Regions from separate parts of the Homo sapiens genome. Here regions 2, 3 and 4 are each reported to be linked to region 1. The links are microRNA targets in miRTarBase. Many come from high-throughput screens and were not tested one by one. Region 1 holds a microRNA gene; each other region holds the end of a gene's coding sequence.

Region 1 (7,167 bases):
CTTTTCAGAAATCTGAAGTCAATAGGTTGACAACAAAAGGAAAAGACGACCAACCTGTAATTCTATACTCAGTTAAGTTATAATAGCTTTCAAAAATGAAGGTAAACTTTACTTAACATAATGGGTATTTATGAAAAACCCAGAGGTAGATCAGGAATAAGACAAGGATGCTTGCTTTCACCACTCCTGTTCAACATTGTATACATAAATTCTAGCCAGAGCAATTAGACAAGAAAAATAAAGAAACAGCATCCAAATTGGAAAGGAGGAAATAAAAATGTTAATCGGTGACATGATCCTACACAGTATATAGAAAATCCAGAGAATCCACAAAGACACCGCTAGAGTTAGTATGTTAATTCAGCAAAGTTACAAGATATAAGATCATAAGATCAGCATGCAGAAATCATTGTGTTCTTTAGACCATCAGCGGATACTCTGAAATGGAAACAAACAAAAAAATTCCATTTACAATAGCCTTTAAAAGAATTAAAAACAAAAACCTGGGAATTTTAACCAAGGATGTGAAAGATTTTAGACTGAAAACTATATTGCCGAAAGAAATTAAAGAAGACCTAAGTTAATGGAAATTCATCTTGTGTTCATGGATTGGAAGATTTAATTTTATTTAGATGGCAGCGCTGTCCAAGTCAATCTGATTTATATGGAATTGCAAAGGGCCCCAAATAGTCAAAGTATTGAAAAAGAGCAAAACTAGTGGATTCAAACTTTGCAATTTCAAAATTTACTATAAAGCTACAGTAATTAAAACAGTATGGTACTGGTATAAGGATAGACATATGGAAAAGAATTGAGAGTGCAGAAATGAACTCTCAAGTTTATGGTCAGTTGATTTTCAACAGGGCCACTTCATACCCAGTAGGGTGTCCGCAATAAAAAAGATAATAACAAGTTTTGGCAGGGATGTAGAGACATTGGAACTGTCTTAGATTGCTGCTAAGACTGTACAATGGTGCAGCTGCCATAAAAGACAGTTTGGTGGTTCCTCAAAAAGTTAAAAATAGAATTACCAATTCTTTTGGGTATATACAGGAGTGGAATTGCTGGGTAATTTGGTACTCAAATACCTGTATACAAATGATCATAGCAGCAGTATTCACAATAGCCAAAAGTGCAAACAACCCAAATGTCCATTAACTGATGAGTGGATAAGCAAAATTTGGCATTGTTGTATACATATAATAGACTATTAATCATAAAAAGGAATGAAGAACCGATACATGCTATAATATAGATGAGCCTTGAAAACATTAAACCAAGTGAGAGGCCAGACATGAAAGATTACATAGTGTATGATTCAATTTATATGAAATATCCAGAATGGTTAAATCCATAGAGACAGAAAGCAGATTGGTGTTGCCAAGGTTTTGGGGGAGAGGGGAATGGGGAGTGACTGCTTAGTGGGTTCAAGGCTAAAGGTTTGGGGGAGAGGGGAATGGGGAGTGACTGCTTGGTGGGTTCAAGGCTAAAGGTTTGGGGGAGAGGGGAATGGGGAGTGACTGCTTAGTGGGTTCAAGGCTTTTTGGGGGGAATAACAAATATGTTGTGGAACTAGATGCAGTTGGTTGCACAATATTGTGAATGTATTAAATGTCATTCAATTGTACATGTTAAACTGGTTAATTTTATGTGAATCTCATGTCAATACAAAAAGAAGTAAACGTGAAATAAAGACTTTTCAAGGCTGGATCTGGTGGCTCATGCCTGTAATCCCAATACTTTGGGAGGCTGAGATGGGCAGATCACTTGAGGTCAGGAGTTCGAGACCAGGCTGAACAACACATTGCAACCCCATCTCTACTAAAAATGCAAAAATTAGTCGGGTGTCATGGTGGGCATCTGTAATCCCAGCTACTCTGGAGACTGAAGCAGGAGAATCACTTGAACCCAGGAGGCAGAGGTTGTAGTGAGCTGAGATTGCACCACTGCACTCCAGCCTGGGCCACAGAGTGAGACTTCATCTAAAAAATAAAAATAAATAAATAAAAACTTTTTCCAAATAAACAAAAGCAGGTAATTCATTGCCAACTGAACTGAACTATAGTAAATTTTAAAGGAACTTCACATGAAAGGAAAATTATATAAGATGGAAATTTGGACCTCCATAAAGGAATGAAGAGTCCTGGAAGTGCTAAATATATGGGTAAATTTAAAGACTTTTTTTAAATTTTAAAATCTCTTTAAAAGATCACTGAACTTCCAGTTTCAGCCTCAACATGTGAAGAACCTGCAAGTTATCACTCCTCTCCTTAACAATAACAGTAATCTGACCAAACTGAAAATCAAAGACTGTTCTAGATCCATCAGAGATTGAGGTACCAGTTCAAACTGCCATCCCCAAAACTGGAGAGACAGGTGAATACAGAGAATCATAACCAAGATAACAGAAGATGCTTGGGCCATAAACTGGTAGAAACACTTCAATGGTAATGGATGAATTGCTTGAGGCTGAGTGTGGACTAGGGAGTCAAAAACTCCTCCCCAGTATTTTTTTTTTTTTTGAGACGGAGTCTCGCTGTGTCGCCCAGGCTGGAGTGCAGTAGCGCAATCTTGGCTCACTGCAAGTTCTGCCTCCTGAGTTCCACCATTCTCCTGCCTCAGCCTCCTGAGTAACTGGGACTACAGGCGCCCACCACCATGCCCAGCTAATTTTGTTGTTGTTTTATTTTTAGTAGAGACGGGGTTTCACCATGTTAGCCAGGATGGTCTCGATCTCCTGACCTTGTGATCCACCCGCCTCGGCCTCCCCCAGTGCTGGGATTACAGGCGTGAGCCCCCACACCCGGCCCCTCCCCAGTCTTAGTAGGGCCTTCCACTTTGGTAGGTTTTATCTCCCAGAATCCCATTTACGGTAAAGAGTCAAGAAAAATCTTGTGTTTTGGGCCAGGGGAAGGAGCATATAGTTAACACTACTGAGTTAAATACCAAAAATGGTTAAAATGGTAAATTTTATGTTTACAATAATTTAAAATTTTTAAAAAGAAATGAGCTATTAGACCATGAAAAGACATGGAGGAACCTTAAATGCATAATGCTAAGTGAAAGAAGCCAATCTGAAAAGGCTGCATACTGTATGAGTCTAATCATTTGACATTCTGGAAAGAGTAAAACAAAGCAGTGAAAAGATCACTAGTTGCCGTGGGTTCAGAGTATGGAGGAGAGTGGGGAGGGAGGGAAGGGTGAATAGGTAGAGTACGGGATTTTTAGGGCAGTGAAACTATTCTGAATGGTACCGCAGTGGTGGGTACATGTCATTATATGTTTGTCAAACCCATAGAATGTTCAATACAAGAGTGAACCCTAATGTAAACTATGGACTTTCATTAATAATAGTGTATTAATATAGGCTCATCAGCTGTAACAAATGTGCCACTCAATGCAAGATGTTAGTAATGGGGGCAGTGGGTGGGAGAGTTGTATACATGTGAGAGGTATGAGATAACCCTATTTTTTGTTCATTTTTCTGTAAACCTAAACTTGCTTTAAAAAGAAGTCTAAATAAAAAAGAAAAAAGAACTATACTTATTTTTTTTGAACTACCACGTAACTCTTAATTAGTAGTCTTTATTTCACAGCAAATAATTACCAAGTGGACCATAGCTATCTCTTCCCAATTGTCTATTTCACTTTAAGAGAGTCAATGAATGGCGCCAATAGAAGCTATGATTGTCTCATGAACAACCTTGTCTTATTGCTTCTTAAATGGTTATGTCCTTTGCCTATTCTATTTAAGACACCCTGTACCTTAAATAGAGTAGGCAAAGGACAGAAACATTTTAAGTTCTCTAACACAGCAGTCCCCACCCTTTTTGGCACCAGGGACTGGTTTAGTGGAAGACCATTTTTCTGCAGCAGGGATTAGGGGGCCAGTGTTGGAGGGGGATGGTTTCAGGATTAAACCATTTGACTTCAGATCATCAGGCATTAGATTCTCATAAGGAGTGCGTAACCTAGACCCCTCACATGTGCAGTTCACAATAGTCTTCACAGTCCTGTGAGACTCTAATGCTATTGCTGATCTCACAGGAGGTGGAGCTCAGGTGGTAATGCTTGCTCAACCGCCACTCATCTCCTGCTGTGCGGCCAGGTTCCTGACAGGCCATGTATTGCTACTGGCCTGCAGCCCAGGGGTTGGGGACCCCTACTCTAACATTCTGTGCATACCCTCATCATAGGGCCTTTGCACTGGCTTTTTCCTATGGCTGGAACAATCTACTCCAGATACCTGCAAGACTCACTTCTTCACTTCCTTTGTCTTTATTCAAAGGGCCTTCTCTAGAAGGCTTTCCCTAACCATCTTATTCCAAATTATAACCTTGTTCCTGGACCTGTTTTTTTTCTTCATAATACTCCTTAGGTTTTAATATTGGAAAACTTATTCATTTATTGTCTGTCTCTGTCAGACCTAACCTGATTTTTGTGTGACGATTTTGTATCCTGCAACTTTGCTGAATAACAGATTGGGTGGAATCTTTAGGATTTTTTTACATATAAAATCTTGTTGTCTGTGAACAGATAACTTTACCTCTTCCTTTCCAATTTGGATGCCATTTTAGGAAAAACTTTCAAACTGTGTTTTTCCTCTGCTCTCATACCACTACAACAACAGAAGACTTCTGTGACCAAATACGTGGGGATTTCTCCCCAACATTATGTGAGCAGTTCTGCAGCAGACACCAACTGGGTATCCTCCTAATCAGTTCTGACACTAGGTGCCTAGAGATAGTGTCAGATTCCACAGGTTGAGGACTCAGTCCCCAGGACTGCCTCCCACCCCTTGACCAGTCACAAGCCCCGGTCTCCAGAATTTCTTACCAACTGGCTTCAAGTTGTGGTTCCCATGACCCCCTCTTTGGGTTCAACTGAGTTCTGGAGTGGCTTACAGAACTCAGGGAAACACATTTGCCAGTTTATTATAAAGGATGTTACAAAGGATACAGATGAAGATGTCGAGGGAAAAAAGCCAAACTGCAAAGTATTTGAAGAGATTTATTCTGCACCAAATGTGAAGACCATGACCCATGACACAGCCTCAGAAGGTCTTGAGAACATGTACCCAAGCTGATGGGGTTATAGCTTGATTTTATATCCTTTAAGGAGATATGATAGCATTAACATTGGCCTGGATACCATCTTGAATAGAAGTGATGAGAATAGATATCCTTGCCTTGTTCCTGATCTTAGAAGGAAAGCTTTCAGTTTTTCACCACTGAGTATGTTGTTAACTGTGGCCTTTTCATATATGGCCTTTATTATTTTGAGGTAGTTTTGTTTTTGTTTTTGTTTTTTGAGGTTTCAATATTTTATTCAGGTTTTTTTAAAGTGATGTTAATTACAGCATTTGAAGGGGAGGATCTAATTCCACACAAAATGGAAGACTCTAAAATGTACCCATTAAACTGCTAAAAAACAAATTGAGTGGTGAGAATACAACAGAAGTCCAATTTAGATTCTGAGTGTTGTCACCATGTGATTACAATCATACAGACACTTCTAAGCTTATAGGTGGAGCTCCTGGAAGCTATTTCATACTCTGGTGCAAGGGCAAAAAAACACAACGCAAGAAGGAATAAGTCCTGAATTATTGGCTTTATCACGTCCACCCTCTCCACCCCAAAATGGCACAAAAGAATCGTGACCACACCACTCTGCAGACGTTTTGGTGTAAAAGAGGTGACGATGAACTGGGGTGGGAACAGGTCATGAAGATATGTCTAAAAAAAATCCCATTCAGGTGAGTTTGTACACACCATCAAGTAGTGAGCTTCTCATCAATTAGGGTTAGATAAACAAGGTTCAATTCTCAGGAAATCACAATTTCTTTCATTTACTCAATATGAATTTACAAAGTGCCTACATATTATCAGCTTCCACTTGCAGCCATTTCTAGATAAAAAAGAAACCTGATATCTCAAAGGGGCCACCAAGTTACCCCCAAGTCTACCACTGAAAGGACCTTTTTTGGAAATGGTTTTCTTCTGTACCTCTGAAAGGGTAACATCTTAAAGCTGAATCATCTTTAACCTGGAGGTCTAACATATTTAGCAATACTTGCATTCCAGACGTACAACATTAAACGATACAGTAAATTCTGAAGGTAGCTATGCTGCAAAATAGTTTAAAATTAAACAATTGTACAGTATTCATTTATGCTTGAAATTCCAGGCCTAAACCAAGCTTGTGGCCACCACCATTGACGTTCTTGCCATCCAGAAGAGCTGACAGTGTCAATTTGATACCTGGTTTTAGGGTCTGAGTGTATCCTAAACCCATCAGGCTGGAGTTATTCACTTTAGCCGAGAAGCAGCTGTCAGAGTCAATCTGATACTTGGCTGCTATTCTGAAGTGCGTGTTACTGTTTCCTGCTGTCCAGGCGAGATTGACAGCGGTCTCTAACTTCTTGTTCACCTTCTGGTAAATGGAGCTGCCAAACTCTGTCCCGTCATTCATATTAGTGTGAAGCTGGAATTCATAAGTCTTGTAGCCAACTGCAAAGTTGCTCTGGGTTACTCGGGACTTTGCAGTCTCAAAATTCATCCAGGCTGGGCATGGTCGCTCATGCCTGTAATCCCAGCACTTTGGGAGGCCAAGGCGGGCGGATCACGAGGTCAGGAGATTGAGACCATCCTGGCTAACGGTGAAACCCCGTCTCTACTAAAAAAAAAAAAAAAAAAATTAGCCAGGCGTGGTGGCGGGCGCCTGTAGTCCCAGTTACTTGGGAGGCTGAGGCAGGAGAATGGCGTGAAACCAGGAGACGGAGCTTGCAGTGAGCTGAGATCCTGCCACTGCACTCCAACCTGGGCGACAGAGCAAGACTCCGTCTCAAAAAAAAAATGCATCTGGTAGCCGGCCAGCCAGCCCTCGTAACCCAGCACCAGAGTACCCCAGATGGAAAGGCCAGCGATGTTGAAATCCGTGTCGCAGCCCAGGTTAATGTGCTTCTGCTTGTACCCTGTCTTGATTTTAGCTTTTTTTTCCCCAGTGTTAGGTGAGAAGGATGAATTGAAGGTAAGCTTCAGATCATGTGCAAGCTGACCTTCCACGGTAATCTCGGTGCCTAGTGTATTGTCGGTGTTCCATTTCTCTGTAAACGTCAGGCCGTACTCAGTCCATCTGTACTTGGTTTACAGACTGCCCATGACTTTG
Region 2 (7,000 bases), not on the chromosome of region 1:
ATTTTGGTGGATAAAGTCAAATGAGTTATACCCAGTACTTCAAAAGCACAGCAGTGCCAGCTCATCCTCAAGTCACCTTTGGATTGAAATCTTCCACAATGCAGTTCATGACTTTGCTGTTGAATTATGAAGTGTTTGTGTCTGTGCTGTAAGGTGTTGGGATTCAGGAATAGAATCAAATTCCAGAGAAATACCACCACAACCACCGTCCCAGAACACCAGCAACCTTTCTCTTTCCTCAAGGAAGGCTTCTTTCCCTCATGGTTCATGTGCTTTGCTTCTTTTATAGTTTCTGATGCTCTGGTATTAAAGGGAATTCCTGCCGAGGGGCCTTTATATTCTGGATATCACATATGCTATAGGATAGGTTTTGTCCTTTCTGACTTTAAAAAGGATAAATTTAAAGACAATACTGTTGCTGCTGTTGCCAAGTCATAATCAGTATAATATGTCTTTAGGGGCAGTAATTCATTCCCAGTATTCTCACCAAAAAGAAACATTTAAGGTTATTCTTTTCAGGCCACTCCTGAAGATTGTTGTCACGTCATTTATTATCTTTATGATCAGTGTGTTCCTAAGCTATGATTGCTGTGTAGAGAGGCAGATTTTCTTACACATTGCTTAAAATATTGTTTGTATTTTTCAACTAGGTGGTTGTACTACAATCCCAGAGTCAGACCTAGAAGAAAGATCAGTAGAACAAGACTCTACAGAACTGTTTACCAACCACAGACATCTCACTGCAGAGACACCCAGGCCTGGTAAGAGACTGGATGGCCTTCACAAGCGTTAGTTAAGTCAGAAGCAGTGACAATCTGGTCAGTTTTTGTCATACCAGAGAGCATTCCGCAAAGCTGCTTGTTTTCCAATTTCTTCATTCTTCCCCTTAGCACTGGTGCAGCTGAATTTGATCCTTTGTGTATTCCTGTCACTATTCAGATCTTTTCTCTCTCTTTCTCTCTTACTCTCTTTTTTTCCAGAAGTTTCACCCCTCCAAGGAGTCTCGGAATAATTCAAGTAGAGTTGTTTGGTTGAGAGGAACATCCCCATCTCAAGGCCGAACCTGTGTGAACCTCATGCCAAGCACAGATATAGGGCTGGCGCAGGTGCTTCCTAAAGCTCACCTTCCTGGAGATGACATGCATAGAAAGAGGGGTTGGGACTTTTTACTTCACTAGGAGAACTTGTAACACCATGGGGAAGTCAGCTGAAACTTGTCTTGTTTTGCCAGGAAAGGAAGTAGTTGCCTTTGGTCATCCATCTGCTAATAGTCACAGAATACAGTGAAATGACATAGTTTTGGGTTAGATTTTATAATGCAAAGATTCAGATCCAAAATAATTTCATACCCCATTTTTTCACAGAATTCTTATATAGTAAATGTATCAAGTTTAATAAAGCATCTCATTGTCAAATAATATCTTGGATTTTATTTATAATTAGAGGGATTTATGAGTGATTGCTCTACATTATTTCTTCAAAGGAAAGGAAAGGAATTGAAGACTTTGCTACTCTCTGGTAAGACTTGAATGTGATTATTTTATAAATAAAAGAACCACTATGAAACTTTCATGTGATTTGTTCTATTAAGCTAAACGTGGAAGAAGGGAAGTTTTCTAGTATTGTATGAAAATGTTTAAATATTTTCAAGGAAGCTAGTACATTAACATCCCCTTTTCATTACCCCATTGGGTGGCACCTTTTAAAAATCCAGGTTATTAAAGGATTCACACTTTATTACAGTTAAAATTTAAGGTTTTTATGTGTAAGAAGTGAAAGAAACTTTGCTAATTTCAAGTTCGAATTACAGTTGTGAGATTGATTTATTTAAATAAAAATATGCCTTTGCCAGTTTTGGAATGCCTCTCAGTACAAAGGGGAAAGTTGTTCATGGTTTTTCTATATGTGAAATGTCAAAAAAAAACTGCAGAGGATGTATTACTTATTATTTGTAGCATCCTCTTTTAGGAGATGCAGATATATTATCAAAATAACATCATTATGATCATTTATAGCCATGATATGAGCATAAAATTTTACTGAAATTATCATTTTCTCTTTAAGTCCTTTATGTCAAAAAGTAAACCTATCAGTGAAATACAAAAACAATTATAGAGATGGTTCTGAAAGAGCAACAGAAGGCTGTGTGGATTCTATTGGATGCTGTCTTCTCAACGGCCTTGTGATTTATGCAGTGTTGAATTAGCTGGCATTATTTTTATGTTTTAGCAGGTGAACTATGGAAGCTATGTGGACATTACATGCATTAAGGGTTTTGTTGCTTTGGACTGGAAAATATATAACTTATGGTACGGCACAACTGCCAAGGCCTAATCAGAGTAAGATGCCTCTTGGAATAACCACTTTCCCCAGTGCTTAATGTCTGGAGCAGAGAGGGTCTCTATTCTGGCTAATGTGGGGAAAACGTTACCAACACCCTACTTCCCAGATTTTTTTGCCATCATTTCATTTTAATTGTAAACTCAGACCCCAACCCTTCACTTCAAGGCTCATTTTGAATCAATTATCTCCTTATCCCTACACCAAGAGCCACATTCGAGGTCCTCTTGGAATAAGTGGACAAGGCATCATGGACTGTACTTTTAGCCCTATTTTCTGGCCCTTTATTATATTCTCCTCGTTTTTGTCTTTTTATTTTGCTTCAACATTTAGTGTATTCTCTCTTGTTGTGTCTCTCTTATATGCCCCTTAAATCATTTCTATAATGGAATGGGGAAATGAATATAGTCCCACTGTCTCCTCTTAAGGTTCTCCTAATCACCTTTCTTGGCATTCATCTTCCGCTCTTTAGAATCCCTGGAGAACTCTATGCCTCTCTACATACCTCTCTCTTACTTATTGTATTTCAGAAGTCATGTTTTCCTTTCCTGGTAGGATAGATTTGCAAGCTCCTTGGACATAACTGTTCTTGGATTCTTTTCGCTGCTTGGTAAATATTTGTTGTATCAAAAGGTCAACTAATCTCCTAAAAGAAGTCAACAAGTCATAGAGAAATGGAGAAGCCGGTGATTTAGAACATTGTGGTCTAACCTTCCTAATTTAGTATTTCAGTTTATGCTGAGAGGAAGCTGATGTGACTGTCCTACTATTTTTTCTTAAATTTGGCTTTGAAGAGAGATTTGAATCTTGAAAATTCAATACTTAATGATTTTGTTCATGAGTACTTGGGTAACATTGATTTAAACACAGGATTCAGGTTTTAAATAAGATGAATAAAAATTCTAATACAACATTAGTTACAAAAATGAACATTTATTTAGAATAAGAAAAGAATAACAAGTCACATTTGTAAAAAGCTGATAATCACCATATATATCACAAAATCTATACAAATATTTATATTAACTACTTGATATACCTTTTTAACAATTCTGCATTTTCTTGCACACATTTCTTATTCACTTCTTTAATTATAGACAATTTGTAATTTCATTTTGTATACAGTGAATTAAAAGATAATTTTTTCTCTGAAATTGTTGATCAGACTTTTTTAAAAAAAATTACTGATAGTTTGCAAAAGCTTCTTTCAGCTTTACAACTCATCATTTGTAATGTCAGCCAGGTTTTTAGGATTATATTATCAGGGCATTTTAATTTTTCTTATGCAGTGATACATTTTAAATAGCCATGCAATTGATAGCTCTCTTTTTTTTTTTTTAGATAATTTCAACTTTTATTTTAAATTCAGGAGGTACACATGCAAGTTTCTTACCTGGGTATACTGGGTGATGCTGAGGTTTGGGGTACAATTGATTCCATTACCCAGGTACTAAGCATAGTACCCAATAGCTATTTTTTAACCTTTGGCCCCTCTCCCTACCTCTAGTAATCCCCAGTGTCTATTGTTGTTATCTTCAAGTCCATGAGTACCCATTGTTTAGTTCCCACTTATAAGTGAGAACATGTGGTATTTGGTTTTCTGTTCTGGCATTAATTTGCTTAGGATAATGGCCTCTAGCTACATTCATATTGCTGAAAAAGACATGATCTTTTTTATAACTGCATAGTATTCTGTGGTATACGTGTACCACATTTTCTTTATCCAGTCCACCATTGATGGGCACCTAGGTTGATTCCATGTCTTTACTATTGTGAATAGTGCTGCAATGAACGTATAAGTACCTATGCCTTTTGGTAGAATTATTTATTTTCTTTTGGATATATACTCAGTAGTGGGATGACTAGGTGGAATGGTAGTTCTAAGTTCTTTGAGAAATCTCCAAACTGCTGTCTACAGTGGCTGAACTAATTTACATTTCCAGCAAAAGTGTACAAGCATTTCCTTTTCCCCACAGCCTTGCCAGCTATTGTTTTTTGACTTGTTAATAATAGCCATTCTGACTGGTGTGAGAGGGTGTCTCATTGTGGCTTCAATTTGCATTTCTCTGGTGATTATTGATGTTGAACATCTTTTCATGTTTGTTGAATGCTTGCCTGTTCATGTCTTTTGCACATTTTTAAATGGGATTATTTGTTTTTTGCTTGTTTATTTGTTTAGGTTCCTTATAGATTGTGGATATTAGACCTTTGTTGGGTGCATAGTTTGCACATATTTTCTCCTATTCAATGGGTTGTCTTTTTACTCTGTTGATAGTGTCTTTTATGATGCAGAAGCTCTTTAGTTAATTAGGTCCTACTTATCAATTTTTGTTTTTGTTGCATTTGCTTTTGAGGACTTACTCATAAGTTGTTTCCTAAGACCAATGTCCAGAATGATGTTTCCTAGGTTTTCTTCCAGTATTCTTATAGCTTGAGGTCTTACATTTAAATCTTTTATCCATTTTGAGTTAATTTTTGTATATAATGACAGATAGGGGTCCAGTTTTATTTTTCTTTCTATGACTAGTTACATATTCTAGCACCATTTATTGAACAGGGATCCCTTTCCCCATTGCTTATTTTTGTTGACTTTGTTGAGGATCAAATGGCTGTAGGCGTGTGACTTTATTGCTGGGTTCACTATTTTGTTCCATTGGTCTTTGTGGAAATTGACAACTCATTAGCCAGTTTATCATCAAAATCCTCATTGAAATGATCTTCATTACCACTAGTATTTTATTTCAAATCAGCAAGAAGATATTTAAATATTTTTCGAATATGTTCATGCGATTTACTCTTCTTCATTAGCTAGATTATTAGACAATCCAAAGTCTGCTTATTCTCTTTCAAATGTATCATCTCATCTTAATGAGTTAATTTTGGTATGATTTGAAAATGTTTTTGTTATAATTTGCTTATTGACAGAATAACTTTTATCCATTTTATATAGGAGTTAATTGGGAAAGTTATTTTATGATGAGTTTGTAATTGTATACTCTGAATTATTAAATATATTCTTAACAGGCAAGAAATTCTCCTTTGACTTGGGGTCCATGAAACTGGAATCTTACTGCTTCTGCTTTTACATGTCTGATGGTCAGGACGTCAGATTTCATATGTTTCAAATCATATTTTATCTCCAACACATTTATGCTTCTGGTGCCAGGCTGCATAGAACATGCTTATTTAGTGATACAGCGTTTTGCTCCACACCTTCCTCTTATGACACTGGCTTAAGTGAGAGCAGTGGGTGGTAATGATATTCCTGGAATCCATTCTTCCAGCAGAATAGCTATCAGTAATTTAACCATATACAGAGTTGTCTGTAATCCACATAAATATATCCAGTTAGCCCAAGTTGAATGTCTCCCCAACTCAACTTCCCTTTAGCCAGATTGTCAAGGCCACCACCCTTCCAATGCCTGCTACAAGGGGAAGACAGGCAGAAGAGACAGTAGTTTTCACCAATCATGATTAAAATGTCTTTTTTCAAATTGTGCAAAAGCATATGACCATACACCTGGGCAAGGAACTGCCCTGAAGTTTAAGCCTGATTAGCATCACAGTAAATCTGTTTATAACAGGAGAGAGTGAGCGAGCGAGATAGAGAGAGAGAATAGAAACTACACTTTAAATTATTGGTTTGTTAATTTCCTCCATGGTTGAAATAACTCCAAAATATGTATGGGATAGCACTATGAGTGTGGCGGGTGGAAAGGGCAGATTTTGTAAGTGTCTTATTTCTGTACTGCTATAACAGAATACCACAGACTGGGTAATTTATAAAGAATAGAAATTAATTTCTTAGCATTCTGGAAGCTGGGAAGTCCAAGATCAAGGCACCAGAAGGTTTGGTATCTGGTAAGGGTCCAACTCCCACTTCCAAGACGGCGCCTTGCATTCTCCAGAGGCAGGAAGCAATGCTGTTCTTTGCGTGGCAGAAGAGCCAAGAGAGGGCAAGAGAGAAAGAGGGAGTAGGGGGCAAAATTCAACTTTTGATAATGAACCCACTTTCAAGATAATGACATTAATCTCTTCATGAGGGCAGAGCCCCCATGGCCTAATCACCTCTTAACAGTCTCGCCTCTAAATACTGTTTCGACACGACTTTTGGAGGGAACAAACATTCAAACCATAACAGTAAGGAGGTATTCAAAATTCCCTTAAATATACTATAGGTCTTCTTAAGTTTGCCAGTGTGAGCCTCGACCTAGCTTTGGGCTCAAATGTAAGTACACTTTTACTTTTCATTTTTAGTAATTAATTGTTCCCTGAGAAATATCAGCAAACCTTTATGGACTAGCAAAACAGCAATTCTCTGTTCGCTGTCTTGGTTTTGTGGAGAGATGTTTCACCTTATACATTCAGGGACAGTTCTACTAATGCTTATTTCTTAGCAGCCACTCCATGAATTGTCCCAAAAGGGACTGAGTCAGTCTTGTATCTCAGTTGGCTGAAGGGTCGGTTTTAGATAAAAAGTTCACAGCAAGCTGTCAGATTGAAGAGGGCCCAGCCGCTTCATTGGCTCCAGGATCATCAGATTGGAGAAAGTGAAGAGGTTTAAAATGCTATTAAATTGATGAAATTCTGTTTAACAGGCTACAGTAATCATGTTTATTCCGTCTGGTACCAGTTCCAGAAAGAGAAGTTCATGATGTCA
Region 3 (7,167 bases), not on the chromosome of region 1:
TTTCCCAGCACCATTTATTAAATAGGGAATCCTTTCCCCATTGCTTGTTTTTCTCAGGTTTGTCAAAGATCAGATAGTTGTAGATATGCGGCGTTATTTCTGAGGGCTCTGTTCTGTTCCAGTGATCTATATCTCTGTTTTGGTACCAGTACCATGCTGTTTTGGTTACTGTAGCCTTGTAGTATAGTTTGAAGTCAGGTAGTGTGATGCCTCCAGCTTTGTTCTTTTGGCTTAGGATTGACTTGGCGATATGGGCTCTTTTTTGGTTCCATATGAACTTTAAAGTAGTTTTTTCCAATTCTGTGAAGAAAGGCATTGGTAGCTTGATGGGGATGGCACTGAATCTGTAAATTACCTTGGGCAGTATGGCCATTTTCACGATATTGATTCTTCCTACCCATGAGCATGGAATGTTCTTCCATTTGGTTGTATCCTCTTTTTTTTTTTTTTTTTGCAGAGACAGGTTTTCCTTATATTACCCAGGCTAGTCTTGAACTCCTGGGCTCAAGCAATCCCCCTACCTCGGCCTCCCAAAGTGCTGGGATTACAGGCGTGATCCATCCACCATGCCAGTGCCCTGCTCCATGTCTCTCTTAACATGGAAACCATCATGAGTTTTCCTGAAGTATTAGGTTAGACGTTGACAACCCAGCTGTTTCTGTTCACTATGGTTGTGAGAAGCCCAGTTATTTAAAAGGCCATTAAGATTGAAAATAGATTTAGAGGTGTAGGTACAGACTGGGAAGGGGCATGAAGGAAATTTCAGGGGTGCTGGAAATGTCCTAAACATGGTGGTGACATGGGTGTTAACATACATAAAAATTAATTAAGCTGTACATTTAAAATTAGTCCCCTTTATGCATTTTACTCTACATGTGTTATCCTTGCAAAGAAAAAGACTGACATCTTTGAGAGCAAGAGTTTTTGTCTTATTCACCTCTGTATAATTTCCAACATCGTGCTTTGCACATTGGACATTCAAAAAATGTTATACAAGATTGACTGCATCAATACTGGAGTGTTGTGTGAGGGTTAGGTGCTGAGGCTGAGAAGTGTATGAGGGAGACCTGAGATTAAACCTGCCACATAAAGTGGAGAGAAGTAGCAAGGTCAGGGCTATGAAATAATCCCAAAAACTTTAGAATTTCTACATAATACAGTTGACACTACTATTCTCAATAGAGCTGCTTTCAGTCTCAAAGGGCTGTGGTATGTGTGCGTGTGTGTGTGGTAAAAAAGGGAAGCAGCAGGTCAAGGAAGAGAAGTGTTATTTCACAAGACTTAAGTAATCTTGTCATTGCTGCTTTTCCTGCCAGAAAATCATTACCTTTCCCTTTAAAAATCATTTCCATATACATTTTACTAACTCCCATGTCAATTTCACCCTTCCTTTTCTAATAATAGCTACTATTTATTCAGCACCAACTAGTATACTAGGGACTATGCTGGGTGCTGGAGTCCCAATGACGAAAGAGACAAACACTTAAATAAGAGGATGTCCGTAATACAGGCATGTACAAAGCTTCACCTCAAGTAAGGAGGCAGGACCAACCTTCATACAGAAGCCCAGCCTTCAAGGATGAGTGTTCTAGTTCCAGAAGAGCAGAGGCAGAGTGGGTAACATGCTAAAGGTATGGAGGCCTGAGAGAATTGTTTTTTTTCAAGGAATGCTAGCTATGTAATAAGGAATAGGGAGAACATGGTATTTTAACTGGAACATATGGAAAAGATTATTACTAGGGAAAAAAGAATGAAGGCCTTTACTAAGAAGGCAGCAGGAATTAAGAAGGGACATATTCAAGAGGAGACAAGCTCAAAAGGACTTGATGATTAAGTATGAGTGTGATGGAGAAAAAGAATACAATACTTTGAGGTTCCTAGTAAGTATCTTGGGTGGCGTGGTAAATGGTAATGCCATTATGGAAGGTAAAGAAGAGAGCGAGCCAGTTTATCAGGACATTCAGGTAGCATGAAAGAAAACTGAACCTGTGGGCTCTGATAAGATCATCGGAGGGCGGGTAGGGGGAAATAGCACCAACTGAGGGGAGGGGTCAAGACTCATGGGAAATAAATCTCAGGGAGGAATCTTGACTACCACAGAAAACCCAGAGGAGTATGCAAAGAGGGAAGTATAGGAGGTTATACATAGGTCAAGCAGTGTGAGGACTGAAAAAAAGACACTAGATTTGACAAGGCGGGCAGTCTCCGCTCATCTTTCCCAGAATATCCTAAGAAAATTGTAGGAGCTAAAGACAGAGATGGCTGGGCTAAGGAATAACTGGGAAGGGAGAAAATGGAGGCTGGAGGCATTTCAGAAGTCAGGATGCAAATGCATCCAAGTGGTAGGAAAGGTTTTATTTGGTCTTTCCTTTTAGGCTAATGAAGACATTTACCATGTTTATACAAAGAAAGGAATCACTAAGTGGTGATGTAAGGATAAAGTAAACACAGCCTGGCAGAGAAAGGAGGAGGGATCCAGTGCACAAGTAGAGTTCAGAAAAAGTGCCTCAGATACTAAAAGCAGGTGTTAAAAGAGCAGGTGAAAGCATGAATATATGTAGAGACAGAGGAGAAACGTTACCAAATTCATTTTAAATTAAAGTCTATACAGGGTCAAAAAATAGCACCTGAAAAATGAAAAATCCATTGGGAATATTCTACACACAGAGGTAGCAGAACCTTAATTCTGCTTACACCGCAAAACTAGCCAACACTTATTTAGTTTTAAAAAAATATTCTAAACACAGATGTAGCAGAACCTTAATTCGGCTTATACTTACTTATACTAAGTAGCCAACGCTTAATTAGTTTAAAGAAAAAAACCCATGCAGCTATTCTAACAGTCAGTGTTTAAACTGATTGGTGCTAATTAATCCAAAACTATGAGATTCTGTATTAAAAAAAAAAAAAATCTCCCCACCTATCATCCATCATCATCTAGAGACATCCTGGGTTCACATTTTGAACAGAAAAGAAATTGTGCCTTCAGGTTTTTCTTTCTCCCTGGTAAGTTCTATTTATGTGCTTATGATTTTAAAAATTTATTTTAATTTATATTTTTAAGTAAAAAAATTACTTTCTACCTTTTTTATTGAATTCTATGATTCTTGTGAGATTTCATAATGGCTGCTCATGAAAAATTTATAATACAGAAATATTTCCTTTTGAAATAATAATTTCTGAGGAATATTAATGGTACTCAGGGGTCTTTCTTTTTTTTTCTTCCTGAACCATCCTGAGCCCAAGTCTCACTTTGCTGTCTTCCCTATTTCCCAGTATCATTTAACTGAGAATTTTTGTTTTTATGGCATTCACACATTTTTCTATTTGACCGAAACGACTAGTTTATGTAAAGTTATGGTTTGGTTAGACATCGTGTAAGTAAAATGACAGACTGTTTCTTGCTAGGAAGATATTCAACATTTAGGGCAGGTTCTAGTTGTAAAACAAACTAGGTAAAGTTAATTACTTAGCATAATGATAATTCCATCATAATTAAGATTACTGCCCAACTTTAATCTGTAATAATAAAATATAATGATCTAATTAACCCTTACAATGTCTTTGGGAAATAAAAGGGCAAAATAAATAATTATATATCAAATGAAAACTCCAAAATATAACTACGTTTTGAAGCAAAGTGAAAGGTTTCTAAATGCCAGAATTACCAAAAGTCACGAAACACAAACAGCAAATAAAGTGTAATGTTACAGCTATAACAACTCACATAAAGTATGCAGAAACAACTAGGAAACACTGAGAATTTTAAATCTGATTAAGGAGCTAGTAGAGATTACCCAGCATTCAGCTCACCATTTGAAACCAGCCAAATGAATATGTGACAAGTCTCTTTTAAAAATCTTGCACTTTGAAAAGGAAATGTGTTATAAGTGTTACTCAATCTGGAAGTTGCAATGAGCTTGACAATGTCAAAACATGGATTTAGAGATTCTCAATGAACCTCTAATGTTTTACCTTCAATAAAATCTCTTTTCATAAAAGGAAAAAAAAGATTACCCAAATTCTACCATCATTTTGCCACTGGGATTATTTTCCTTTCAAACAATTTGGATGACCATTATTATTCCTGGACTTGAATGTACACGATTCTCATAAACCCAATGTCACACTAAGTAAAACTGCAAAAATCATATACGTCTTATAATTAAAGTTATTATTTCTTTCAAAAACCAAAGTTCTATTAGTAATACTTTTAATGTTCAATAAACATTTACTGAGTGTTTAATATAAGGTAGGCATTTTTCTACAAATTGGAGATTCAACAATAAAGCACAAAAATTTCTGTCCTTAGAAAGTTTATATTTCGGTATGGGAAAACAAACAGTAAATGAATAAATACTTAGTAAAGTCAGATCGTGGTGAGTGCTATGGACATACATAAAGCAGGGGGGAAAGGGAATGCTGATGTATATATTCAAGGACGACCTGCTCAGGTAACAGTGGAGTGACACCTGAAGGATGTAAGAGTGAACTATGCATTTTTCTGGGAGAACAACATTCAAGGCAGAGGGAATACCAAGTACAGACTGTCCAAGGCAAGTGCATACTTGATGCTTTGAGGAGCACTGAGGCCAAGGTGCCTGGAGCTGCATGAGGAGGTGGGATATGGTGGTACCTGAGGTAGGACAGGGAGTCTAGGCCTGCAACTTTTAAGGACTTTGACTGCTCTGAGTGAGATGAGAAGCCAATGAATGGTTTTGAGCAGATGAATGGTATGAGTTGACTTGTTTTAAAAATAATCATTCTGGCTACTTTATGGGGAACAGACTGTAGGAATGCAAGGATATAAGAAGAATTTTTGTAGATGACAGCTTCAATCCAGGGAAGAGATGATGGTGGCTTGGAATAGGGCGTTAATAGTAGAGGTCAAAAGAGGTGGTCAGCTTTAGATATATTGTGAAGGTAGGGTCTACCAGATTTGCTAATGGATTGGATATGGGTGCTAAAAGAAGAATCAAGGATGACTTCAGGGTTTTTGGCCTGAGCAACCAGAAGTATGGCATTGCCATTTACTGAGTTGGAGAAGACTGAAGGAGAAGCAAGTTTGGGAGGGAAGACCAAGAATTCAGTTTTGGATATGCTGAGTGTGAGCTTTAATTAGATTTCTAGATAGAGATGTCAAATAGGCAGTTTTATGAGATCACAGGGAGTGAGGACATCTAAGAAAGGCGAATGGTCCAAGGAAACTTCTTCCCCTTAAAAAATGAGTGTACAGCTAAAATCATAAGCAACTTTAAAGGCATAGATTGAAATAGTATAAAATGTAGAAAACCTCCCATACCTTGAAAGCTCACTTCAACTGCCTTCTGCCCAACTTAACATTTTAAAGACATTTTGATATACATACAAATCTAAGCTCCAAGAAGCCTAAGAAAACCCCTTAGGGGTTACCTTGGCCCATGGGCCTCAAAAATAAAAAATTAAGTTTTTCAATGGCATAGCCATTACAAGTTTTATCTTAAATTTGCTTGAAATTTAAGAATACATTAAAACATTATAAAAAGAAATATAAAAAAGTGTGTTTTTTTTGTTTTTTTTTTTTTGAGACAGAGTCTCACTCTGTCACCCAGGCTGGAGTGCGGTGGTGTGATCTCAGCTCACTGCAACCTCTGCTTCCTGGGTTCAAACAATTATTGTGCCTCAGCCTCCCAAGTAGCTGACAGTACAGGCACGTACCACCATGCTCAGCTAATTTTTGTATTTTTAGTAGAGACGGGGTTTCACCATGTTGGCCAGGCTGGTCTCGAATTCCTGGTCTCAAGTGATCCACCCGCCTTGGCCTCCCAAAGTGCTAGGATTACAGGTGTGAGCCCCTGCGCCTGGCCTCTGAGTTGTCTTTTTATGACAGCTTCCAATTTTGTATTCGCTATGTCCAAAGTTGTATGCTTCTTCCCTGAAAAAAGTTTTTTATATTCTCAAATACAGTATTATATTCTCAGTCAGTATTATATATACAGTATAAATATAGTATTATATCCCCAGTTAGACAAATACAAAATGCTGCATCTATATAGGTGGTATCAAGATTTAAAAGGATTTAAATCTTGCAAGTTATACTTGAAAAAATTCATATGGAAAGGAGTCACTCAATTGCTCATTTTGCATACTGCCAATACCTGAATACTGACTATCTTGAACAAAACCATGACTGTTTGGATTAGTACTGTTTGATGGTCCCGACTCATTTATCATGCTGTTATCTGCACAACTGAAGTCAGATCCCTCAAATGCATCTGATTGTGAAACAAAAACAGTAGTATTGGAATTGGCGCCTGCTGACATACTGGAAGAGGACATCTGATGGAGCTGTCTCAAGTCTCTTGGGTCTAACACTGAATTACATGAGGGGTTTTCAAGATTCATGCTCAGAAGTCTTGGATTATCAGTCTCTCCCATGCTGTCACTGCTGGTTGTCATCATATTCACAGAACAATTAGACAGCATGTTGGGATCAGAAATACCATATAAATCTGCTGATGGCATGGATGACGCTTCCATTCCGACTATGTCATCGGCATTGTTGTAAATGCAAGCATTAGAAGCATTTAAATCATTCCCAACAGGTATTCTCAGGAATGGTGGGATACCTTGCGAATTAGAAGGAAGTGTCCTTGTTGAAAAACTACTCAGTGGGTTTGTATTGCCTGAGCGTGGGGTGGGGTGGGCCACTGATGACCAGCTTGAAGAAGGCAGAGGTGCCATTGAGGCATGATGTGACAATCCACTTGAGATGGGCCCAGGTGAGGGATAGTAGGATTCTGCTTGACTTGAAACCCCTGTAGGCATTTCTCTCACAACTGCATCATGAGAAAACAAGTTTGGTTCTGTGGGAGGAAAAATTTATTTTACGAAATTAAAATGAACAAAATTATAAAAAGCATTTCTAAATTAAAATTGCATAAGCACACAAATATATATAAAGAAAAATGTCAAGGAAACCAATGTAACATTTCAAATAAAAAAATGTAAAAAGCACTAAAATTATTACACGAATCCAAAATGAAATTCTGTAACGTATATACCATTTTACAAATACAGGTAAAATGATTTTGGCAAGTTACTTTGGCATATGTAATTTCACTTCAATTAAATATGAAAATCTAGTTTCTGAGGCTCTATAAAGGTATTTTTGAAAACTAAAAGATA
Region 4 (7,167 bases), not on the chromosome of region 1:
TCTTCCACATAATTTGCTGGCATGCTGACCTTTCTTCAGGCAGCTCCTACAGCTGGCTGGATGTTTGAGGAAGACATGAAGAGCAGTGTGTGATGAGGCAAAGGCAGGAAGCCCCAGAGCCGGCCCAGCAAGCCGGGCTTGTGGAGGGGGATTGATTACACGCAGGCTCGCACACCACTCCTGGGCTGGCAAGGACAGGGAACAGGCGGTAGGAAGTGGCTTTTTAGGAGCAAGGTTGGTGCAGGTCCGTGGACACTGCTACCCTCCTGACCCTGGGATCTTTCTCTCGCAGTCATCTGCTCACATGCACCCTGCCCTAGCTGGGTGTTTGCAACTAACGTGATTGATGCAGAATGAGGAGAAAAGGGGAGGCCAAATGTCCACATTAGCCTGGGTCAGCAGGCCCCTGGGCACTAAAGAAAATAGGGATGGGTTTGAAAGCAGTTGATGGCAAATGAGACCTAATTTGAAGGGCAGGGACAGATATCACATACCGAAGCAAGCAGCCTTCCTCCTTGAAAAGATGGAATTTCTGAGGAATCAGTGTGTACCCGGGAAGGGCAGGCTGGCAGGTGGGAATGGGCGAAGGCTCTGAGGGATTCAAGGACTCTGTACTGGTGCTGCCCGTGGGGTGCTTCCTCCTGGGCCTGTGGGTGTCACACTGGCCACCCACAAGCAGATGCCGGGCACCAGTGCAGTGGGGCGGGAGGGTGTGGACGGTTCAGCACACTTCCAACCCCATTCCTGGGAAAAAGAATCCCTAATCCTGTAACAGCTCGTATTGGTGTTAAAACAAATCCTGCCACTGAAACTCATCCACTCTACTTGGAGGAGTCCTCCCTGGATCTTGACCCAGATTTTCATTGTATGATTGATTCTAACAGCTTTATTTATCTCATTCCCCACAGATTGGAGATCACAAATCAGAAGGGGACTCAAGGGCTGTTGGCAACAGGATGGGACTGGGGACAGCCCATGTGCCTGCCTCTGTCATGATAGGCACCCAGAAATATTTCCTGGATGGCCAGTGACCAAGTGGGGGATGTCATCTCTTCACACGCTTCCAGCACACACGTGTGATGAAGCAGGATCCAGGCTGTGGCGAGGCACCAGGATAGGACAAGCAAGGAGGCGGCTCCTCTCTGCCGGGAATCTGGCCTGCGGGAGGAAAGCAGCCTGACAGTGCCCACTCTGGTGGCCACTGTGACAAGGGCTCTGCAGCCCGGAGGAACTCTGGGAGGTTTGATGTGAAGAGGAGAGCCAGGGATGACCCTTTGGTGAGGTCTGAGGGATGAACTGGAAGACACCTATGATTTTAAATGAAAAACTTGCCTGAGAGAAGACACAGAAAAAAATACGAAGAGCTAGGTTCTGATGAGGAAATTACTTCTGTGGACCCAGCGCTTTTGACTTCATCTTCCTTCTGTTCCTGAACTTGGGAACGTGGAGAACAATGAGGAAAAAAGGGTGTCAAAGCACTCAGAAAAATTAAGTGTCGAATACGTGGAAATAGTAATAAAAAAACCACTTTTCATGTTATGTGACCATTTGTCTTGAAGACTACAAACGTAGACTGGCACTACCATACCTAACGCACGATCTCAGCCGTTTATTCTTCCCTGAGAAAACTGGGGCAAGAAGAGAAAGTAACATTTATTGAGAGCTTATCTTGTGCCAGGCACTATTAGGTGTTTTTATAAATGCTCAGGGAAGCCATTCTTCAGGTATGAATCTTACCAAGATGTATAAAGTCTGCAGGGCACTATGTTTGGGTATTAGGACTTGGATCTATTTCATGCACCTTTTTCTTTGCATATTTTGACTACATTTAGGGATCAATATGCAATCCCTCCTGTGACTAATTTATTGCTTACAAGCTCACCTCAGTCCAAGAGTAAATAAAATGGTGGATTAGTGAGGACTAGGTCAGCTTATTGCATAATATACATTAAGGCTAAATTTTAGTATCTTTATTAATATTTTACAGCATTAACACTTTTCAAAGAGAATATCCCTAGAAGGGTATGCTAAAGTTACATTATTACAAAGAGATGATCTGAAACTCTGAGAAAGTGAACATTCTTAGTAAAAGGTCTGTTTTAACAGGTAAAGTAGAAAAGGCAAGTTTAGATTTATAATTGCTCCCTTCTCTCGTTTCTTTTTACCACCAGGATAAAGGAAATGTCTATAATTCAAGGATAGGGAGAGTGCCAGGTCACCAAATGATTATATCTAATTCATTTAAACCAATCTGCCGGAAATCTTGCTTAGGTTAAGATCACAGGTGGCTTTTAAAACTAGCCAAACAAACATCTTTGAATCTATCTTGAGTTCCTATTTACTCAGCCTTGCTCATTCAGTTGAAAAGACGTGAACAAGGAAATCTTCTGTAAATTACACACCTTACCCTTAATGAAATGGTTTCATTCCATCACTTGCTCAATAGATCAGAAAAATTCCAGGAAACGTTTAACCTCCAAAACTTATTCTAAAGCATGAATAGGCCAGACGCCGTGGCTCACGTCTGCAATCCCAGCAGTTTGGGAGGTCGAGGCGGGCAGATCACTTGAGGTCAGGAGTTCGAGACCAGCCTGGCCAGCATGGTGAAACTCCATCTCTACTAAAAATACAAAAAAATTACCCAGGTGTGGTGGTGAATGCCTGTATTCCCAGCTACCTGGGAGGCTGAGGCAGGAGAATGGCTTGAACCCAGGAGGCGGAGGTTGCAGTGAGCCAAGATCGCACCACTGCACTCCAGCCTGGGCAACAGAGCAAGACTCTGTCTCAAAAAACGAATAAACATGAACTTAGACTAGTTCAGCAGGCATTCCTATACTTGATCCACATAAATTGGGTTAATCTCAGGCAAACCTCAAGTCTCTGTAATGAGGGAAATGTTTTTATCATGAGATCTACCAGTTTTTCCATACATGGATGTTTCATGTTTTAAATGTAGTAGAAACCTATTGGTTTGGATCTGTGTTATAAAATGGATTGGTACATATAAGGTAAGGCCTTTCTCTGCTAGTACTGACATGCGATTTCACAACTACAAGTAATGTGAAGCCTGCCTAGCATTAATGTTCCTGGTGCTCAACGCATCTCTTCAGTTCTCATCCCATCGTGATAACCTGTGAGTGCAAGTAACTCCAGCCACGCCGGCTGGCAGCAGGGAAGCTGCCCCTGTGACAGGCCAGGCATGCCCGCTCCTCCTGCCTGAAAACCGGGTGCCTGTGGTGAGGAGGGGTAAGGTGGCAGGTTCAATTCAGCTCGTGCTGCACTTAAAACTTTCTACCATAAGAAAAACACATACTGTTGACCCTTAAACAACACAGGGTTTGAACCTGTGGGTCCACTTATATACATGGAGCTTTTCCAACCAAACATGGTTTATTTGCTGAATGTGAAACCCACGTATACGGAGGGCTGACTTTTAGTGTACGCAGGTTCCGTAGGGCCAAGTGCCAGACTTGAGTATGCAGATTTTCGCATACGTGGGGTATCCTGGAACCAATGTCCTGTGTATATTGAAGGATGATTCAAATACTTCCCAAGAGGTTGTGTCAAAATTCAGTAAAATTTGAAGAACTGCAAAATATTTCTCCATTACAAATTCTAACATCCTACACAGAGACCACCACCCCAACTGTTTTTTAAAAAGCAAACATAAATACAACACTTGGTTTTGAACCTTTAATAAAAGTAAAAAATGAATGCAAAAAGAACACAATGTTGAAAACTTAGTATGAATGTGAACCTCACTAGATGTTCAAATCTGGTAGAGTGCAAATTTTGTTCATACTATTTTACATTTTTACAAACTCAAATCACTTTGGTTCATATATTTTCTATAAACTATTGGCAAAAAAATCCTCAAATTTACATTCTTTTGGCTACATTATTTCTAACAGATATAGATTTACTTCCGGTTTCGGAGAGAAAGACTTATTGTGTGTGCGTGATCAAGTCTGTTTTAAAGATTCACTCGCTGCTTTCATCTAATAACTTCTGGTTTTTCATAAAATGCTGACATCTTCATTGGAAATTTTTTTCATGTAACTGTTTTCATTTTCAGAAAATATATAAGGGGGTCATTCCAAAGTTCAGAATGATCCTATTTTTTTAAAAAACAAAATTCCTGTAAAACAAATTAACTCCAGGAACTTAAAATTTACTCCAAGACATTTCCCTCAAAACAAAGCAAAAAACCCCAGCAAAGATCGTTACATCACAAAACCAAACACAAAGACCAGCGCTCACAGGCAAGTTCCTCTAAGCTTCCATTCTGCTGACTGGTGGCTTCCATTTAAAAGGAGTCTTTTAATCAAGCCACTTTCACAGAATTTAAAACAAACCAAACACATGTAAATTGCAAAATACAAAAAGGTAAATTTATAAGTAAAAATGACCAAACCCACAAAACTGGAGTATTTCGAAGGTTGAGGGTTCAGTGGAGGGTGTAACACGAAAGGAACTTCACAACTGAAAGAAATCATTGCCGAGTTTCCTCCAGGCAGCACTGAAATGAATGGAGAACCTTCTCTCGAACATCTCACACGTTAAAAAAAATAAATATTTAAGAGATACAAGGCTCAGATTGGTTTTCATATACATTGCACTTGAAGTTTAAGACCCAATACTTGCAAATTAGGTCTGGTATGGTCTATGCCATTAAATGAATACATTGTGCTCACCAATATCATTGACTAGAAACACCACACGTTTAATGCAGTGCCATATGCACTCTCCTTTTTACAAGGCAATCACAGATTGCAAATTCCATAGGGCTGTGGCAAAAAACAGTCATCTCTATTCTGTAGTAACAAACAAACAATTTTGGCTCACTAAGATTGAAATACATGGCAGACAGGTATTCATTCTTAGATGACTATGGATTTCGAAATAAACTTCATAAACTGAGGTGAAAATTCCAATATATCGCAGTGTGGGAACCAAGACTTTTCATTGCCTTTTGCTCAGTAAGATTGTCTACACAAACTGCCACGGGAGGAATGACAAGCAGTTGACCCACTGGTGATACACACACGTGTGACCATGTAAACACGCCACTGCAGGACGGACGAGCGTGACCGTGAAGCGTGGCCACGCCGCGACCCCACTTAGAGTGTGACCTCTCTATAATCACTGCTGCTTTTCTTGTTTTGTTTTTTTTTTTAAACACAGCCCTATTTTTAAAAATCTTTTGGATAAATATTATTCCTATTACACCATACTTCATGTTTGTTAAGCACCATCAACCTACCTCCTTTGGGCACTGACACAAAACTGCGGGTTGGTAATTGAGTCTTAGTTCAAGGCTTTGAAATATGGCAACTTGTTTTAATCACATGAATGAAATCGAATACTTGGGAAGCTGCCACCTGCCTGAACCCACGTAGCCTGGGCAGAATGCTCCAGGGCACAGACAGGCGCCAGTGCGGGCAGTCAAGGGAAGACTTCAGGGTAAGTCATCATTCTCCACCTCCCTATTCTAGACTAGGTGAAGAGTTTTTTCCAGGAGTCATTTGTACAGTCAGCCCGATCTAAATAGATTACTTAAGAAAAAAGATAATCTTTGTCATAATCCACAGTCAGATTTTCTTCCAAAATCTTCCTTGCTCTCAGAATCGGTGGTTTTGAAGACTCAATCACTATGGGGCTTTTCAGGAACACCCTATGTGTAGAAAGGAAAAAAAAAAGGAAAGAGAAAATTAGCACTAAATGTATAAATATTTTAATTACCAATTAAGTAGGTCCTAACATGGGAAAGATTGACACTTTCTTTGACTGAAGCAACAAGATTGAGAGGTGGGACATGTGCAGAGAACTGGAGACCGAGGCCAGCTCTCCCAGCTCCCCTGCACCGTCTTCATGGCTCTGGCCCCGTGAGCCACAGCTCTCACCTGCAAAATTAGGATAATTCTCTGCCTCAGGTGAAATTACGCTGCTGAGGCCCTTATATAAAGCCTGTTATATAAGTGTAAGATATTGGTGAAAGTTTAACTAAATTAATATCTATATAAAGGAAACACCCAATTTTATCAAAGCATGGTGATGCTTAGGGTATGATAGGTTCCTGAAAGTTCTAACTGCAATTTAAGGGATTGAACCTTTATCTGAAGGGAGGTTTCTGCCACAAACCTTTATTAGTATCTGATGCCTGTGTTATAACCCACCTTACCAGCAGTTTGTTGAAACAGACATTGGAAATAGGTCATGCTTTGTAATACTGAAGCTCTGTGTGCCCTCAATTCACACAGAGCTTCACAGTTGGGAAATCCTTTCTACATGTTCTTCCTCATCTGACCCTCACAGAGCTTCTGAGAGGTAGACACTACAGTTACTACTATGACCAGGCACCTCAGGGTAAATTCTTAATGGAGAACAGTATTTCACTGATGAAGAAGCAAAGCCAGAGAGATTAAATGACCTTCCTGAGGCCACGGAGCTTCTGCTAAAGGGCAAAAGAGAAACCTCCATACAGAATTTTTTTCCCTCAGAATCGTGACTTCCCACGTTACTTAATTGCCCTCCACTCACTTTAAGAGGAAGGAGCTGAGCTCCTCACCTTCAGCAATGACGGAGATTACTCATCCAGAAAACAGCAAGAGCCTCTCATCTGAACAGACAGGTAAGAAAGTCATGAGTCTGGGTTGAGTCACCCAGGTATGCCAGTTACTACCCTGGGGACACACACAATAAGACCTTCTAGGAAACATACATGCTTTTAGGAATTGATCATGTGAAAGCACTGCCAATTTTTAGATATGAACACTGGGAGGGTTCTATACAAACTGCGGTGAGAAAACAAAAGAGCAAACTCTTGGCAGCAACCTGGAAAGAAAACTGGTCATCACATTTGACTCCCTGTTCACTAATGTGCTGATAAATAAATGGGAAGTGGACTTTTAGAATCCCTGGTCGACAGAGGCCACAGTGAGGCCTGGCAAAGACGCCAGAGACGAACGACAGCCAGCCCGGGCGGACCTGACACGTGGCACAGGGACTTCCAGCAGTGTTGCCTAATGGTGGCACATTGTAAATGGCAACCCAGACACCAACACAGGCTGCTGTAAACCTGCTTCCAGGGTGAAGGCAGGTGCGAGCTATGTGTTGAAAGGGCAGTGTGGTATGCTAATGAGAAGCACGGTGCCACGTCGACCTCTG

Evidence for each region. Region 1 holds the annotated microRNA hsa-miR-3121-5p (UCCUUUGCCUAUUCUAUUUAAG, at 3,733-3,754, shown strand). A microRNA usually pairs through its seed, bases 2 to 8, with sites in the 3' UTR of a target mRNA and lowers its output. Matches are read on the target gene's strand: a 7mer-m8 pairs with bases 2 to 8, a 7mer-A1 pairs with bases 2 to 7 and ends in A, and an 8mer does both.
Region 2: the mRNA of BBS9 is a reported target of hsa-miR-3121-5p. Seed matches in the 3' UTR shown: 7mer-A1 at 1,479-1,485.
Region 3: the mRNA of REL is a reported target of hsa-miR-3121-5p. The part of its 3' UTR that is shown has no 7-base or 8-base seed match.
Region 4: the mRNA of INSIG1 is a reported target of hsa-miR-3121-5p. Seed matches in the 3' UTR shown: 7mer-A1 at 5,265-5,271.

Annotation. Positions count from the first base shown.
Region 1 is chr1:180,434,945-180,442,111 of GRCh38, reverse strand. It overlaps MIR3121 (microRNA 3121), which reads left to right and starts at 3,722; the gene lies at 3,722-3,798. The region is part of intron 3 of ACBD6 (acyl-CoA binding domain containing 6); the gene reads left to right. It also overlaps the pseudogene VDAC1P4.
Region 2 is chr7:33,604,215-33,611,214 of GRCh38, forward strand. BBS9 (Bardet-Biedl syndrome 9) reads left to right here. Exons shown (of 23, transcript NM_198428.3): 22 at 651-761; 23 at 981-1,855. The coding sequence ends at 1,012. Among named protein-coding and RNA genes, the nearest start is that of FLJ20712, 120 kb to the right of the region's middle.
Region 3 is chr2:60,921,441-60,928,607 of GRCh38, reverse strand. REL (REL proto-oncogene, NF-kB subunit) reads right to left here. Exons shown (of 10, transcript NM_001291746.2): 10 at 1-6,845. The coding sequence ends at 6,073. Among named protein-coding and RNA genes, the nearest start is that of REL, 43 kb to the right of the region's middle.
Region 4 is chr7:155,306,748-155,313,914 of GRCh38, reverse strand. INSIG1 (insulin induced gene 1) reads right to left here. Exons shown (of 6, transcript NM_005542.6): 6 at 3,680-5,674. The coding sequence ends at 5,645. It overlaps LOC105375592 (a long non-coding RNA gene), which reads left to right. Exons shown (of 3, transcript XR_007060612.1): 3 at 909-3,722. Among named protein-coding and RNA genes, the nearest start is that of INSIG1-DT, 11 kb to the right of the region's middle.